4 linked regions of the Homo sapiens genome follow. The protein of the gene in region 1 purifies or fractionates together with the protein of each later gene. This does not show direct contact. Each region holds a gene or a part of one and is shown in the gene's direction. Other genes may lie near its edges.

The links. Proteins that work in one complex are often made in the same cells at the same time.
Region 2: the proteins of ALDH1B1 (region 1) and DHRS4 purify together in Homo sapiens (affinity purification with mass spectrometry; 3 studies listed by BioGRID and IntAct, with this or other methods). This does not show direct contact.
Region 3: the proteins of ALDH1B1 (region 1) and AMBRA1 purify together in Homo sapiens (affinity purification with western blotting; 2 studies listed by BioGRID, with this or other methods). This does not show direct contact.
Region 4: the proteins of ALDH1B1 (region 1) and SUFU purify together in Homo sapiens (affinity purification with mass spectrometry; 3 studies listed by BioGRID and IntAct, with this or other methods). This does not show direct contact.

The regions. Positions count from the first base shown.
Region 1 is NC_000009.12:38,391,563-38,395,501, forward strand, and holds the start of ALDH1B1 (aldehyde dehydrogenase X, mitochondrial precursor), read left to right. Parts: upstream 1-1,139; 5' UTR 1,140-1,245; exon of another isoform or gene 1,246-2,871; coding exon of another isoform or gene 2,872-3,003; intron 3,004-3,939. UniProt on the Homo sapiens protein: ALDHs play a major role in the detoxification of alcohol-derived acetaldehyde. They are involved in the metabolism of corticosteroids, biogenic amines, neurotransmitters, and lipid peroxidation.
Region 2 is NC_000014.9:23,966,775-23,969,779, forward strand, and holds the end of DHRS4 (dehydrogenase/reductase SDR family member 4), read left to right. Parts: intron 1-35; exon of another isoform or gene 36-297; intron 298-436; coding exon 437-492; coding exon of another isoform or gene 493-496; exon of another isoform or gene 497-909; intron 910-1,982; coding exon 1,983-2,097; 3' UTR 2,098-2,505; downstream 2,506-3,005. UniProt on the Homo sapiens protein: NADPH-dependent oxidoreductase which catalyzes the reduction of a variety of compounds bearing carbonyl groups including ketosteroids, alpha-dicarbonyl compounds, aldehydes, aromatic ketones and quinones.
Region 3 is NC_000011.10:46,584,024-46,587,523, reverse strand, and holds part of AMBRA1 (activating molecule in BECN1-regulated autophagy protein 1), read left to right. Parts: intron 1-79; exon of another isoform or gene 80-269; intron 270-3,500. UniProt on the Homo sapiens protein: Substrate-recognition component of a DCX (DDB1-CUL4-X-box) E3 ubiquitin-protein ligase complex involved in cell cycle control and autophagy.
Region 4 is NC_000010.11:102,611,972-102,615,471, forward strand, and holds part of SUFU (suppressor of fused homolog), read left to right. Parts: intron 1-3,296; coding exon 3,297-3,431; intron 3,432-3,500. UniProt on the Homo sapiens protein: Negative regulator in the hedgehog/smoothened signaling pathway. Down-regulates GLI1-mediated transactivation of target genes. Down-regulates GLI2-mediated transactivation of target genes. Part of a corepressor complex that acts on DNA-bound GLI1.

The DNA.
Region 1 (3,939 bases):
GGAGAAGGGACAAGGAATGCTGCCGCAGAACATCTCCCATTTCTGCTATCCTGCTAGTGCCACCCTACAGGGGCAGGACAATACCCTCCAATGCGTGCCCGCCTTCCACATCCGGCAGAGTACTACTAATTGGCAGCACCTAGTCCACATCCAGAACTCTAACTGCAAATGAGGCTGGGAAACATGGCGGTTAGCTTTGGGACCTCCCTAGCCAGAAGGAAGGTGCAGCGAGGGTGGAGCGAGTGAGATGCATGTTCAGTGGTCCATCTTGGCAACCTTTATAGCAACAAAATGGAGACAATTAAATGTCCAACAGTTTACCCCTACAACAGAATTCTATGCCACCTTGGAGAGGATGATGTCATCTGTAATTAGTGATAGGAGAAAACTTCAAAATACAGCGCTAAGTTTTTAAATTTTTTTTAAAGCAGCACAACAGAGGTTACTATATGATTTTATTTTTATTAAAATAATTTTGAAAGATGCAGAGGAAACAATACTAGCAGGACGAACACCGTAATAATGGCTACCGTAGGTGAAGAGATTACAGGTGATATTTTTCTTCTTTTTTCATCCTTTCCTGTGTTTTCCAAGCTTTCTACACTGTGCATACATTCTTTTTGTCCTTAGGACAAAAATGTACTTTGAAAAATGCCCAAATATAAAATCTTCTTGAAGGAACTGAAGAAAGGAGCAGTGAAAGTGGAGGACAGAAATTAGTGAATCCTGGACAAAAAAAGTGAGGGAGAGGCGAGGCAGAGAAGGGGTTAAGGGGAGTCTCAAGGATGGCAGTCGATTAAGCAGCGTCTTGCAGCGGGGAGAAATGCAAAGTGTAGTTGGGGTTCGGTCTCCGAAAACTTTGCTGTGTGACCTGGGGAAGCCCCTGCCCCTCTCTGGGTATCTCTGTTTCCGCTCCCAAACCAGTGCCTTAGGAGCCTAGATCTGAGCAACGTGGACACTGGGCTTGCGGAGACCCGAGGGAGGGAGCGCTGAAGCGGTGCGGGCTGCCGGGGGTAGAGGGGCGGGGACCGGGAAAGACCGGGCGGGGCGAGGGAGGAGCGGCCTTGGCCGGCGACAGGACGTAGGCAGCGCCCCAGGCGCAGGCGGAGCCTCATTGGCCGCTGAGCCCCGGGCTGCGCGGAGGCGGGACCTGCGGCCAGCCCTGGGCGGCCATGTGGACAGAGCTGGGAGGGCCGGAACCAGAACCCAAGCGTGATCCTGAACCGGAGCCCGAGCCTGCTGCAGGTAACTAACGCTGGTCTCCCCTCGGCTCCCTCGGGAAGCCGCAGCTCCTGGCTCCGCGTGGGGGCTTTCCTCTCTGGGCCGCGGCGTCCGCATCTGGGGGCTGGCCTTTCCGCCGTTGCACTGTAGGACTCTCTCCACGTCCCCTAATCCCATCCCCCGCCTCTGGGTGACGCTACAGGAGCCCCGAGGACACAGACGCCCCCAGACCTTACCACGTTAGCTCGACCTCAACACTCCTGCCCACTCGGCCCACTTCAACAGAGGGCCCCTGACCATAGCCCAGAGGCTTGGACAAGCCCAAAGGTTGCGCCCTTTCCCCCGCAGAAGGGGTGAGGTGGGCGCCGCTGCAGTTCCCGCGGATAGAGAAGGTCCGGTCCTTCCCGCTGTGGGTGAACTGTAAAAAATTGCCTGTATTCAGGAGGATATGCAAAGCTAGGTTTGTGGAAGTCTGGGGTGAGGCTCCTATACTTTCTTGCTGTGTGTCCTCGGTGAGTCCCTGAACCTCTCTGATGCCCAGCCTTCTTCCAGAATGGGGGTCATCATCAACCCTGACCACCCAGGGACTGCAGAGAGGCTTGGCAAATTTCCCGTGAGAAGACAGCCTGCAAACTGTAAAGCATGATGCTCTGTGAGCTGTGATCTTCCTATCAGCAAGTGGAGGCCCCAGCAAGAACCCCATATAGGCCCCAAGAGTAGGAACGGCCTTGGTGTGGCTGCAAAGGTTTGCCAGCCTTGGCCTATGACCACCTCTCCTGACTGCTTCACCCCTCCAATCCTTACCCCATGGGTTGGTGACTCCCCTTTCCCCTACCTCCTTTTGGTCTCCTCACCCTCAGAGCCAGGCCTGTTGGTGGCAAGGGGGCTGTGTCCCAGCATATGGCAAAGTCCTGAGCTAAATGGAACCCTGGGCACCCCTGGCAGATCTGCTGACTCAGCTTCCCCCTGTGGGATATGATGAGGTTTCTCTTCAAATAATCTGATCAATCTTTTATTCTTTAATTCTTAGTATCCCCCCCTTTTTTTTTTTCATTTTTCTCCTTTTTGCCTTTGTTAGATGCCCAGGCATGCCACAGTACCAAGCGTTATCAGTACCAGCTCACATTCCTTTGCTTATTTGGAAAGAAGACTAACTTTCTAGCTCATTACAGACACCCTTTCCCCTTTCTCTCCACTTTCTTTTACGTGCCCACTCTATCTAAAATAAATCAAATGTTTAGCCAACCGGGATTAGTTTAGATTGTACGACCTGACCCCAGCCAATGGGGAAAGGGTACAGGGGCAGGACTTGCATCAGGAATAAAGGCTCTCGTGCCCCTTTGTTCAGGTGTGCTCTCATGGCAACTGGCCAAGGAGGCATCCCTCTGCGCAGAAGTAAAATTGCTTTGCTAAGAATCCTGTGTTCGAGTGTTCAATTTCCTTAGGATTTTGAGCATTATTCCTAACACCCGCAAGGGGAAGGGAAACTTTCTTGGTCAGCATTGATTATTATTATTTTTTTTAGATACAGTCTTGTTCTGTTACCCAGGCTGGAGTGCAGTGGCACAATCATGGCTCACTGCAGCCTCAACCTCCTGGGCTCAGGTGATTGCCCCCACCTCAGCCTCCCAAGCAGCTAGAACTACAGGCATGCACCACTATGCTCGGCAAATTTATTTTTGTTTTTTTGTAGAGACACGGTTCTTGCTATGTGCTCAGGCTGGTCTCAAACTCCTGGCCTCAAGCAGTCCTTCCACTTCGGCCTACCAAAGCGTTACCAGCGTAAGCCACCACGCCCATCACATTGATTTTTATGGGGCCGGGGACCTACATGGAGCCTTGCTTTCCTGATTGAGTTTTTTGTTCCTCTCCCTGCCCAGGGGTGGAGGGTGAGAGGCTGGGGGTGAAGGGACAGGCAGGTGCAATTCCATTTTACCGCTGGGCGGAGCAAGACTCATGAGACATCAAAGGCAGAGAGATTCAAATTCTGACTGAAGAATAACTGCTTCAACTAATCTGGGAACACTACACTCTGTTTAATTTTCATTTAATATGTATTATATGCCGTTTAAGTTTTATAACAGTAGTTGTTTTAACGAAGTCTACACTCTTCAGAGTTGTAGCTTTTCTTCTCAGCTGCCTCCTGACTTGCTGCACCTCTGGGAAAGCTGAAAAGGGATGCTGAGACCTGTGGTTGGGGGATGCTGGGCTAGGTCAATTTCTGAGGCACGGCCAGTTCTGATGTCCTGAGTGGAGCTTGCCAGGGTTTTTATATGCAAGACATCATTCAACATAACCCCATGAGGCATTTCACATATGGGGGAACTGAGGCACAGAGGTGAAATGAAGCAAGTCCCTCTCAGAGAACAACCATCTCCAAGTCCCTTTGATTTCTACTCAAGTCTTAGGTCAATTCTTAGACAGCCTTTGTGGCAATTTCAGTGTTTTCTCAGTGTATCATTCAGTACTGTGTGTTGAGCCGCTGCTCTGTAGCAGGCATACCTCTAGGCTCGGGGACGTAGCAGTGAATGGAACAGAAAAATAAGTTCCTGTGCTCATGGAGCTTGCATTTTACTGGGGGGAGACAGACAAACATATAAGCCTGTAAAGATAGTATTTGGGATGTGAGATAGAGAAGGAGTAAAGCAGGGTAGCGGGGATAGAGAGTGTTGGGGTGGGAAGGGTTGCAATTTTTTAAAGGGTGGTCAGGGAAGGCCT
Region 2 (3,005 bases), on another chromosome or scaffold:
GGGAAGTCTCTCTCCCCATCCCTCCTCTCAGTTACCATGAGGATGGGCAGTTTCTTCCCTTTCCGTTCTTCACTTTCCTCTTCTTAAACATAAAGAGATTTCTGGGTGGGGTGGCTCATGCCTGTAATCCCAGCACATTGGGAGGCCGAGGCGGGCAGATCACGAGGTCAGGAGGTCGAGACCATCTTGGCTAACACGGTGAAACCCCGTCTCTACTAAAAATACAAAAAATTAGCCGGGCGCAGTGGCGAGCGCCTGTAATCCCAGCTACTCGGGAGGCTGAGGCAGGAGAATGGCATAACCCGGGAGGCGGAGTTTGCAGTGAGCCAAGATAGCGCCACTACAGTCCGGCCTGGGCAAAAGAGCAAGACTCCGTCTCTAAAAAGAAAAAGAAAAAGAAAAAAAAAACATAAAGAGATTTCCCTTCTTCCTGCAGCTCTGGATGGACAAGGAAAAAGAGGAAAGCATGAAAGAAACCCTGCGGATAAGAAGGTAAACTGTCATGAGGGCAAGGGCACTAAGAGACATGAAGATGGGAAGGTCTGGTCCCTAGCAGCCCACAGCCCGCTGTCTCAGTCCCACAGATAACACAGGCAGGCTCTCTTCTGCCTCACAGACCACGAATTCATAAACACTATCACTACAGTGACCTGAGCAAGAAGTCAGCTTCCCTTTCAAAAGGTAAACACAGAGACATCGGGGTTTCAGCAGTGCAGAGCTCTGGGAGAAGCCCTGAGTCCTCTCTCCACCTGGGGGATTGCCTCCACCTCTGAGCATCCATGGAGACCAGGGACCATAACCAAAACCATGCTTTGTTAGTCCCCTTGAATAATGACACATGTTTACAAAACTCAGGTTGATGATCTACAATCCAAATGAAAAGAATGAAGAGTTTTACTAAGCCCCAAACTCCCCTTGCCTAAGGAGTTACTTTCTTCCCCAGTGAGCTGGGTGAACTGTTCAAGCACCTTTGTCGGGCTCCCTTTCCTCTAAGTTCCCTGCCTCTCTCTACCTTCTGGCTTCAAGGACAAATGCCAGTAATGCCTAACTCTGTACTCGTCCAGACATCCCAAATCTTCCCAAAGCCATTCTGATGTGAGACATGAGCTGCAGGCCTGGTTCATAACTCATTAATAAGTGAGGGGATTGTCAACCTAGAGCACCAATGAATGATCTAGCCCATGTAGCTCAATACTGGATTCACATTAGAATCACCTGGGGAGCTTTTTAAACTGCAGGTGCTCAGGCCCCACCCACTCCCAGAGATTCTTTTTAATTGGTCCAAGGTAGGACTTGACCATCTGGGCTTTTGTTTTTCTTTGTCTTTTCTTTTCTTTTCTTTTTTGGTTTAAGCCTCTCAAATGATTGCAAGATACAAGTAGAATGGAGAAGCATTAATTCAGCCCTTCTAGGTTTGAGTTACTCACTCTGCCCACCTCTAGAGCATTCTATGGCAGGGAGATTAAAGTGTCTCCTAACTATGCAGTCACTGATAAAATAAGAATTAGCACATTCTCACTAAATGAACCTGACTTTAAGGCACAAGTATAGATTCCTGAAAAAGTTCTAAGCTGAACCTGTACAAATGGAATCATTTTAAACACACCATTTACTGTCACACAGACTCCCTGATACTTTAGTGTGTGCACATGTGAAACCATTTTTTTGAAGTATGAAATAATTGCTCACCATTTTATCTATATAACTTTGGATTTTGGTGTCCTGAGCTCTCTAAAAACCGGTGTGTTTCTATAGTATTTGAATATTATGGGTAATAGTTTTGCAGAGTACAGTATGCTTATACTAAATTATAACAGCATATCCTCGTGGTAACCCTATTTGATAGGCAGAAAGCTTGTACACTGACCCTGAAAAAGCCATCTGATAATTCTTGATTAAGCAAATTTAACTCCCTGTGTCCCAGGTGAGGGAGGCAGAACTGTTTGATTTTTACCTCCTTCCTTGCTTCCCTTATTCCCCAGGTTAGGCGAGCCAGAGGATTGTGCTGGCATCGTGTCTTTCCTGTGCTCTGAAGATGCCAGCTACATCACTGGGGAAACAGTGGTGGTGGGTGGAGGAACCCCGTCCCGCCTCTGAGGACCGGGAGACAGCCCACAGGCCAGAGTTGGGCTCTAGCTCCTGGTGCTGTTCCCGCATTCACCCACTGGCCTTTCCCACCTCTGCTCACCTTACTGTTCACCTCATCAAATCAGTTCTGCCCTGTGAAAAGATCCAGCCTTCCCTGCCGTCAAGGTGGCGTCTTACTCGGGATTTCTGCTGTTGTTGTGGCCTTGGGTAAAGGCCTCCCCTGAGAACACAGGACAGGCCTGCTGACAAGGCTGAGTCTACCTTGGCAAAGACCAAGATATTTTTTCCCGGGCCACTGGGGAATCTGAGGGGTGATGGGAGAGAAGGAACCTGGAGTGGAAGGAGCAGAGTTGCAAATTAACAACTTGCAAATGAGGTGCAAATAAAATGCAGATGATTGCGCGGCTTTGAATCCAATTGACCTGTTCATTTCTCAGTGTTGGGTGCTTAGCTGAGCAGAGAGCAGAAGTCTATTCAGGCTGGATCTCTGGATCCCCCAGCCCTCCTCCCTGTCTCCAGAACTTGAGCGTGATGTTCACGGGTGGAGGTGTCTGCAGAGCTGCCAGCTGGAAGGAAGGTGGCACGGGAACTCCCAGGACGCCACGGGAATCCCCGAGGCAGCGCGAGCCCGGAGAGAGTGGGGAAGGATGAACTCTCTAACACCTCCCCGCCCCTTGCCTCCCAGATCAGGCCAGGTCCTCTCCCCGCATGGCCCTACGACCCGAGTTCCCTCCCGAGTCAGCAAGTACAAGCTGGATGGGTCCTGAGCCGGTGGGGAATAGAGAAAGGCCCTGCAAGGTACCCAGGCCCACAAACAAAAGCAATGGGTTCTGCCCACGGGCCCGAGGATTCAGTAGAAGGAAAGTGGGGACGCTGTCCCCCGCCCCAAAGGCACTGACACTGGGCGACACACGCTG
Region 3 (3,500 bases), on another chromosome or scaffold:
CTTCATTTAAGATTGATTGCTACATGTAATATGTGTCTGATATTTAATGTATGATAATACTGGGTTTTACATAGTCAAGGATAACTAGGACTTATAAATATCTAGCATGCTTGACTAATGAGTTTAATTTTTTACTTTTTTTTTGTGGCAGGGTCTCACTCTGTGGCCCAGGCTGGAGTGCAGTGGTGCAATCTTGGCTCACTGCAGCCTCCACCTCCCGGGTTCAAGCGATTCTCGTGCCTCAGCCTCCCGAGTAGCTGGGACTACAGGTGTGTGCCACCACGTCCGGCTAATTTTTGTATTTTGAGTAGAGATGGGGTTTCACCATGTTGGCCAGGCAGATCTCGAACTCCTGACTTTAGGTGATCTGCCCACCTTGGCCTCCCAACATGTTGGGATTATAGGCGGGAGCCACTGTGCCTGACCTGAAGTTGTGTTTCTTTAAAATGAGCTGAAGCAAATTTTATATTTCATGATTTCATCACTTATTTCTACTCTCTAGAATAGATCACAGGTATATATACCTATAGTATAATGAAGCATCTGAAATTTTGCTGAGTTGGAGAGGATTAATAAGCACATTTGATTTGCAGAGAAAATTGGAGTATTTTATTCTAGGCGACCACTGAAAACAGGACAGAAAAATATCTCTCCCCAGACTTTTGAATAGCAGCATAGTGGCACTGAGTCCTGGAGCCAAGCAGCCTGGTTCAAATTCCAGCACCCCTGCTTACTAGCTATACAACTTGGGCAAGTTACTTAGTCTCTCTGTGCCTCTCCTCATCTGTAAAATACCATACAGTTGTTGTAAGAACTAAATTAGTTAATATGTATAAAGCATTTAGAACAGCACTAGGTGCTGTATATGCCAGTTGTTAGTAACAATGTTATTATAACAAAATAAAGTTTTCCAAAAGAACACATGATAATGATTCTTAGATTGAAGTTTAGATGCTTTGGGAAAACTTTAATAGGGAATAGGAAGTTAAAACAGCATATTTGTCCCTCTTTCCCCACAGTACCCTTCAAAATAAAGTAAAAGGATATAGGTTCAAATCCTAGCTAGGAAAAAAAAAGTAAAAAGATGGATCTTTATTTTTAATTAAAAAATTATTTTTTTATTATTTTTTGGAGACAGTCTTGCTCTGGTGCGGTGGCACAATCTTGGCTCATTGCAGCCTCTGCCTCCTGGGTTCAAGCGATTCTTGTGCCTCAGCCTCCCGAGTAGCTGGGATTACAGGTGTGTGCCACCACACCTGGCTAATTTTTGTATTTCTTTTAGTAGAGTCAGAGTTTTGCCATGTTGGCCAGGCTTGTGTTGAACTCTGGCTTCAAGTGATCTGCCCACCTCGATCTCCCTAAGTGCTGGAATTACAGGTGTGAGCCAGTGCGTCCAGTTTTAAAAATCATTATTATTTTCGGCTGGGTGCAGTGGCTAATGCCTGTAATCCCAGCACTTTGGGAGGCTGAGGCGGGTGGATCACCTGAGGTTGGGAGTTCATGACCAGCCTGACCAACGTGGAGAAACCCTGTCTCTGCTAAAAATACAAATTAGCTGGGTGTGGTGGTGCATGCCTGTAATCTCAGCTACTCGGGAGGCTGAGGCAGGAGAATAGCTTGAACCCCGGAGGCGGAGGTTGTGGTGAGCTGAGATCATGCCATCACACTCCAGCCTGGGCAACAAGAGCGAAACTCCGTCTCAAAAGAAAAAAAAAATTATTGTTATTTTCCAATTATAAAAGTCTTTATGCCTGGTGTGGTGGCCCACACCTTTAAACCCAGCAATTTGGGAAGCTAGGAATATATATATATATATATATATATATATTTTTTTTTTTTTTTTTTTTTTTTTTTTTTTGAGATGGAGTCTTGCTCTGTCACCCAGGCTGGAGTGCAGTGGCGTGATCTCAGCTCACTGCAACCTCCGCCTCCTTGGTTCAAGCGATTCTCCTGCCTCAGCCTCCTGAGTAGCTGGGACTACAGGCGTGTGCCATCACGCCTGGCTAATTTTTGTATTTTTAGTAGAGTCGGGCTTTCACCATGTTAGCCAGGATGGTCTCGATCTCCTGACCTCGTGGTCCACCTGCCTCGGCCTCCCAAAGTGCTGGGATTACAAGTGTGAGGCACCATGCCCAGCGTTTTTTTTTTGGAATTATTTATTTATTTATTTATTTTTATTGATCATTCTTGGGTGTTTCTCGCAGAGGGGGATTTGGCAGGGTCATAGGGCAATAGTGGAGGGAAGCTCAGCAGATAAACAAGTGAACAAAGGTCTCTGGTTTTCCTAGGCAGAGGACCCTGCGGCCTTCCGCAGTGTTTGTGTCCCTGGATACTTGAGATTAGGGAGTGGTGATGACTCTTAACGAGCATGCTGCCTTCAAGCATCTGTTTAACAAAGCACATCTTGCACCGCCCTTAATCCATTTAACCCTGAGTGGACACAGCACATGTTTCAGAGAGCACAGAGAGCACAGTCGCCCAGGCTGGAGTGCAGTGAGTGGTGTGATCTCAGCAACCTCTACCTCCCAGGTTCAAGCGTTTCTCCTGCCTCAGCCTCCTGAGTAGCTGGGTTTATAAGCACCCACCACCTCATCCAGCTAATTTTTGTATTTTTAGTAGAGACAGGGTTTCACCATGTTGGCCAGTCTGGTCTTGAACTCCTGACCTCAGGTGATCCACCCATCTCAGCCTCCCAAAGTGTTGGGATTACAGGTGTTAGCCACTGAGCCTGGCAACAATTTTTTAAAATTAGCTGGAAATGGTGGTGCATGCCTGTATTTCCAGCTGCTTGCGAGGCTGAGGCAGGAGGACTGCCTGAGCCTAGGAGATCAAGGCTGCAGTGAGCCAAGATCACACCACTGCACTCCATCCTGGGCATCATCATGGCAAGACCCTGTCTCAGAAAAATTAAAAAAAAAATTCTTTCTAGTGATTATAGCAGAGTGTGTATTTTTCAGTCATTCATTTGTTTTTTTTGTTTTTTTTCTTTTTATTATTATTATTATACTTCAAGTTTTAGGGTACATGTGCACAATGTGCAGGTTAGTTACATATGTATGCATGTGCCATGCTGGTGTGCTGCACCCACTAACTCGTCATTTAGCATTAGGTATATCTCCTAATGCTATCCCTCCCCCCTCCCCCCACCCCACAACAGTCCCCAGAGTGTGATGTTCCCCTTCCTGTGTCCATGTGTTCTCATTGCTCAATTCCCACCTATGAGTGAGAACATGCGGTGTTTGGTTTTTTGTCCTTGTGATAGTTTACTGAGAATGATGATTTCCAATTTCATCCATGTCCCTACAAAGGACATGAACTCATCATTTTTTATGGCTGCATAGTATTCCGTGGTGTATATGTGCCACATTTTCTTAATCCAGTCTATCATTGTTGGACATTTGGGTTGGTTCCAAGTCTTTGCTATTGTGAATAGTGCCGCAATAAACATACATGTGCATGTGTCTTTATAGCAGCATGATTTATAGTCCTTTGGGTATATA
Region 4 (3,500 bases), on another chromosome or scaffold:
AAAACAGCCCAGCTGAAAAATTAGGCCATGCTGCCGAGCACACTACTTATTTTTTATGACTAAGATTAAGCTGACAACCATGCAAAACATTGCAAACCTGTGTCGGCTGCAGATTTAATACCTCACCTAGCCCACACAAATAATTCATGCTTCTGCATCGATGTCCAGAAGAAACAAATCAGCAGAAAACTGGGTTCTTGTGTGTGTGTGTGTGTGTGTGTGTGTGTGTGTGTGTGTGCACGCGCATGTGTGTGTGTGTGTATAGCAGCCGCGTTTCCATCGAAGCAGCATGCCGGAAATACCCAAGCTCCAGGACTGCAAATCTTGCATTTTGCAATTTTTTTTTCTCTTAAAAGATTAAAGTACAGTTTCAAATGATTGAAGGTTGGTGGGAGGTGTAAATGTGGGCACTTGTCACATTAATTCTTCAGATGATTAAGTTCTTTTCCATTTCTTTAAGGCTGTTTGCAGTTGGGTTTGATGTCCTGGTTCTGGGTGAGTGTGTTGTGGCAGTTACCAAGGTGACTTTAGCTGACTTTCAACAATTTATTTTTCCCTCCAGCTTGAGACGTCTCTAGCCCTGTGTGCTGTTGATTCTTTTCTGCAAGCCCCCACCCCACCTCCCATTGCTATTCATGAGCATTTTTGCCTGCACCATAGAGGCTGGGATTCTCTAGCACGCCCTGCCTGGACAAGCTAGGCCTCAGCCCCTCTCAGGAGGACAGTAGTGTGTCTGGAGGCAGGAACCGGTGGTCAAAGATGGCACAGGGGAGTGATTGTGAGAGTCACCCCCTGGTCCTTTCGCTTAAACTCACTCTGAGCCCTTCGGCTCGTCACCTCACCTCCCTAAGCCTCAGTTACCTCCTCTGTGAAAGAAGGCTTGACAACAGAGCCTACCTCGTGCTTGCTGGGAGGAATCAGCGAGTGAACCTATGGCCTTAGCAGAGGGTTGGCGCAGAGTAAGGGCTCAGGAAACATGGCTCAGGAAACACTGCTTCCTGAGTTCTGCTCTTGTTTGGGCCCTGAGGGCACCCTATGTCTCCACTGAGCCCTCACCTGTGACTGCTGCCTCCCTCAGAAGGAAGGGAGGTGCAGTGGCCCTGGTGGAAGGGAAAGAGAGTTGGTCGGAAGTCTGAGGCTTCGATCAGAAGTCTGACGCACGGTGAGGGGGGACGCGTCACCCACTCTCTTTTGTAAAGGAAAGAGGGAGATTAAACAACCTCAGAGTTTCCTTCCAGTCCTGAATACTGTGACCCTCTTGGCCATAGCATTTGTCTCCTTCACAGGTCTTGCGCAAAGGCGAAGCCAGGGGAAAAGGCAGTTTTAGAGCTGGCTTTAGGAAAGCAGAGGAAGGGACCGCTTTGTGAAGGAACAGTCAGATCCAGGAGTGAGTCCTCACAAGGAGAAGGCCAGCAGGCAGGCACGGCCCATGACCTCAGGGGCACGTCTAACCCACTGCCGCCACAGGGCCATCCTCTGTCTTTGGCCTGCGGACCCTACACCTTCCCCTGGGGAGGTGCCCTGCCTGTTGGGGTGCCACCCTGGCTGCAGGCCCCAGCACCTAGCCCCGCAACGTGTGAGGAGGTTGGGCCTGCCCCTCAGTGGCTGTCTGGCTGTCATCCTGGGTGGCTCCTGCCTGCCACTTGAATGATAAATAACTAGAGCTTCTCACCCAGTTTTTGATGGACACTTGGGGAATTGTTCTGAGATTCACAGCCCAAACCAGGATCCGGCCTTTTGAATGGGATCAGTGGGTAACTCTTATTTCTGGCTGAGGCAGATTTGAGAGGTTGTCAGTGGGGGCAGCTGAATTTGAAAGAGCAAATCTTAGAATGCAAAGGGACCCTGTGTCCCAGCCGTGGGCCGCACTTTTGGTGGGGAGCAGGCAGGAGGGAGTGTGGGGCAGCAGTGACAGCTCACCGTGCCAAGGCCACAGTCAGGAGGAATCTGGTACAGGCTCCTGGGGCCTTAAAGCCCAGCAGGGCGGGGGCCCGGTTCTGCTTTCCAGCCAAGCCCACTGGTCTGACTCGTAAGAGCCCAGCTTGTACTCAGCAGTACAGATTGTATCATCATCTGGTTAGATGAAGGGTGTGAATGTCCCTGCAGCTCCTGGCTGTTGGCGGAATGTGCATCCTCAGAGCCTTCAGGGTCAGCTGGACAGAAACTCTTGGAGCCGCATCTCATGGTGCTCAGAGCTAGGGCTCAGAGGCTCCAGGGCAGGAGAGGAAGGGCTCCCAGAAGCTCCTGCTGATCACAGGGAAAGACAAGCCACTGTGCCATAAACTTTAATATAGAATGTTGGGGCCAGGCACGGTGGCTCATGCCTATAATCCCAGCACTTTGGGAGGCCGAGGTAGGCAGATCACCTGAGGTCAGGAGTTTGAAACCAGCCTTGCCAACATGGTGAAACCCTGTCTCTACTAAAAATACAAAAAAATTAGCTGGACATGATGGCAGGTCCCTGTAATCCCAGCTACTTGGGAGGCTGAGGCAGGAGAATTGCTTGAACCTGGGAGGCGGAGGTTGCAGTGAGCCAAGATCGTGCCACTGCACTCCAGCCTGGGTGACACGGCGAGATGCTATCTCAAAAAAAAAAAACGAAACAAAAAAACAAAAACCAAAGGCTGGGTGCAGTGGCTCACGCCTATAATCCCAGCACTTTGGGAGGCCAGGACGGGCAGATCACCTGAGGTCAGGAGTTCGAGACCAGCCTGGCCAACATGGTGAAACCCCGTCTCTACTAAAAAGACAAAAATTAGCTGGGTGTAGTGGTGGATGCCTGTGATCCCAGCTACTCGGGAGGCTAAGGCGGGAGAATTGCTTGAACCCAGGAGGCGGAGGTTGCAGTGAGCTGAAATCGCACCACTGTGCTCCAGCCTGGGTAATAGAACGAGACACCATCTCAATTAAAAAAAAAAAAAAAATAGAATGTTGGCCAAAGATGCAGGCTTTATAGAATCAGACCTGCCCGAGACTGGATCTCAACTCTGCCCACTCCCTGGCTGTGCAACCTGTGCAAATTACTTAGCCTCCCTGTCCCCAGTTCCTCCTCTGTAAAAAGAGACAATGGTGGCAGCCACCTCTTGGGGGCATTGTGAGGAGTAGCCAGTCAGTGAGAAGTGCTTGGTGCAGTGGCTGGCGCTCGCCAGGCATATACAGAATGATGGCTGTCACCATCATTATCATCAGTCACCATTATTGTCTTTATTACTCAGGAGCCCAGCTGGAGACTCCCATCTTGCTCCTCCCTGAGCTTTTCACCTTGTGCCGAACCTTTTCCTGTGCTTGCTTCACAGGAGCCGCAAAGACAGCCTGGAAAGTGACAGCTCCACGGCCATCATTCCCCATGAGCTGATTCGCACGCGGCAGCTTGAGAGCGTACATCTGAAATTCAACCAGGAGTCCGGAGCCCTCATTCCTCTCTGCCTAAGGTGAGCGAGACAGCCCTGCCACACAGTTTACCCCACAGCACCCAGCTCAGCCTCCAGGGGGCACTTCAG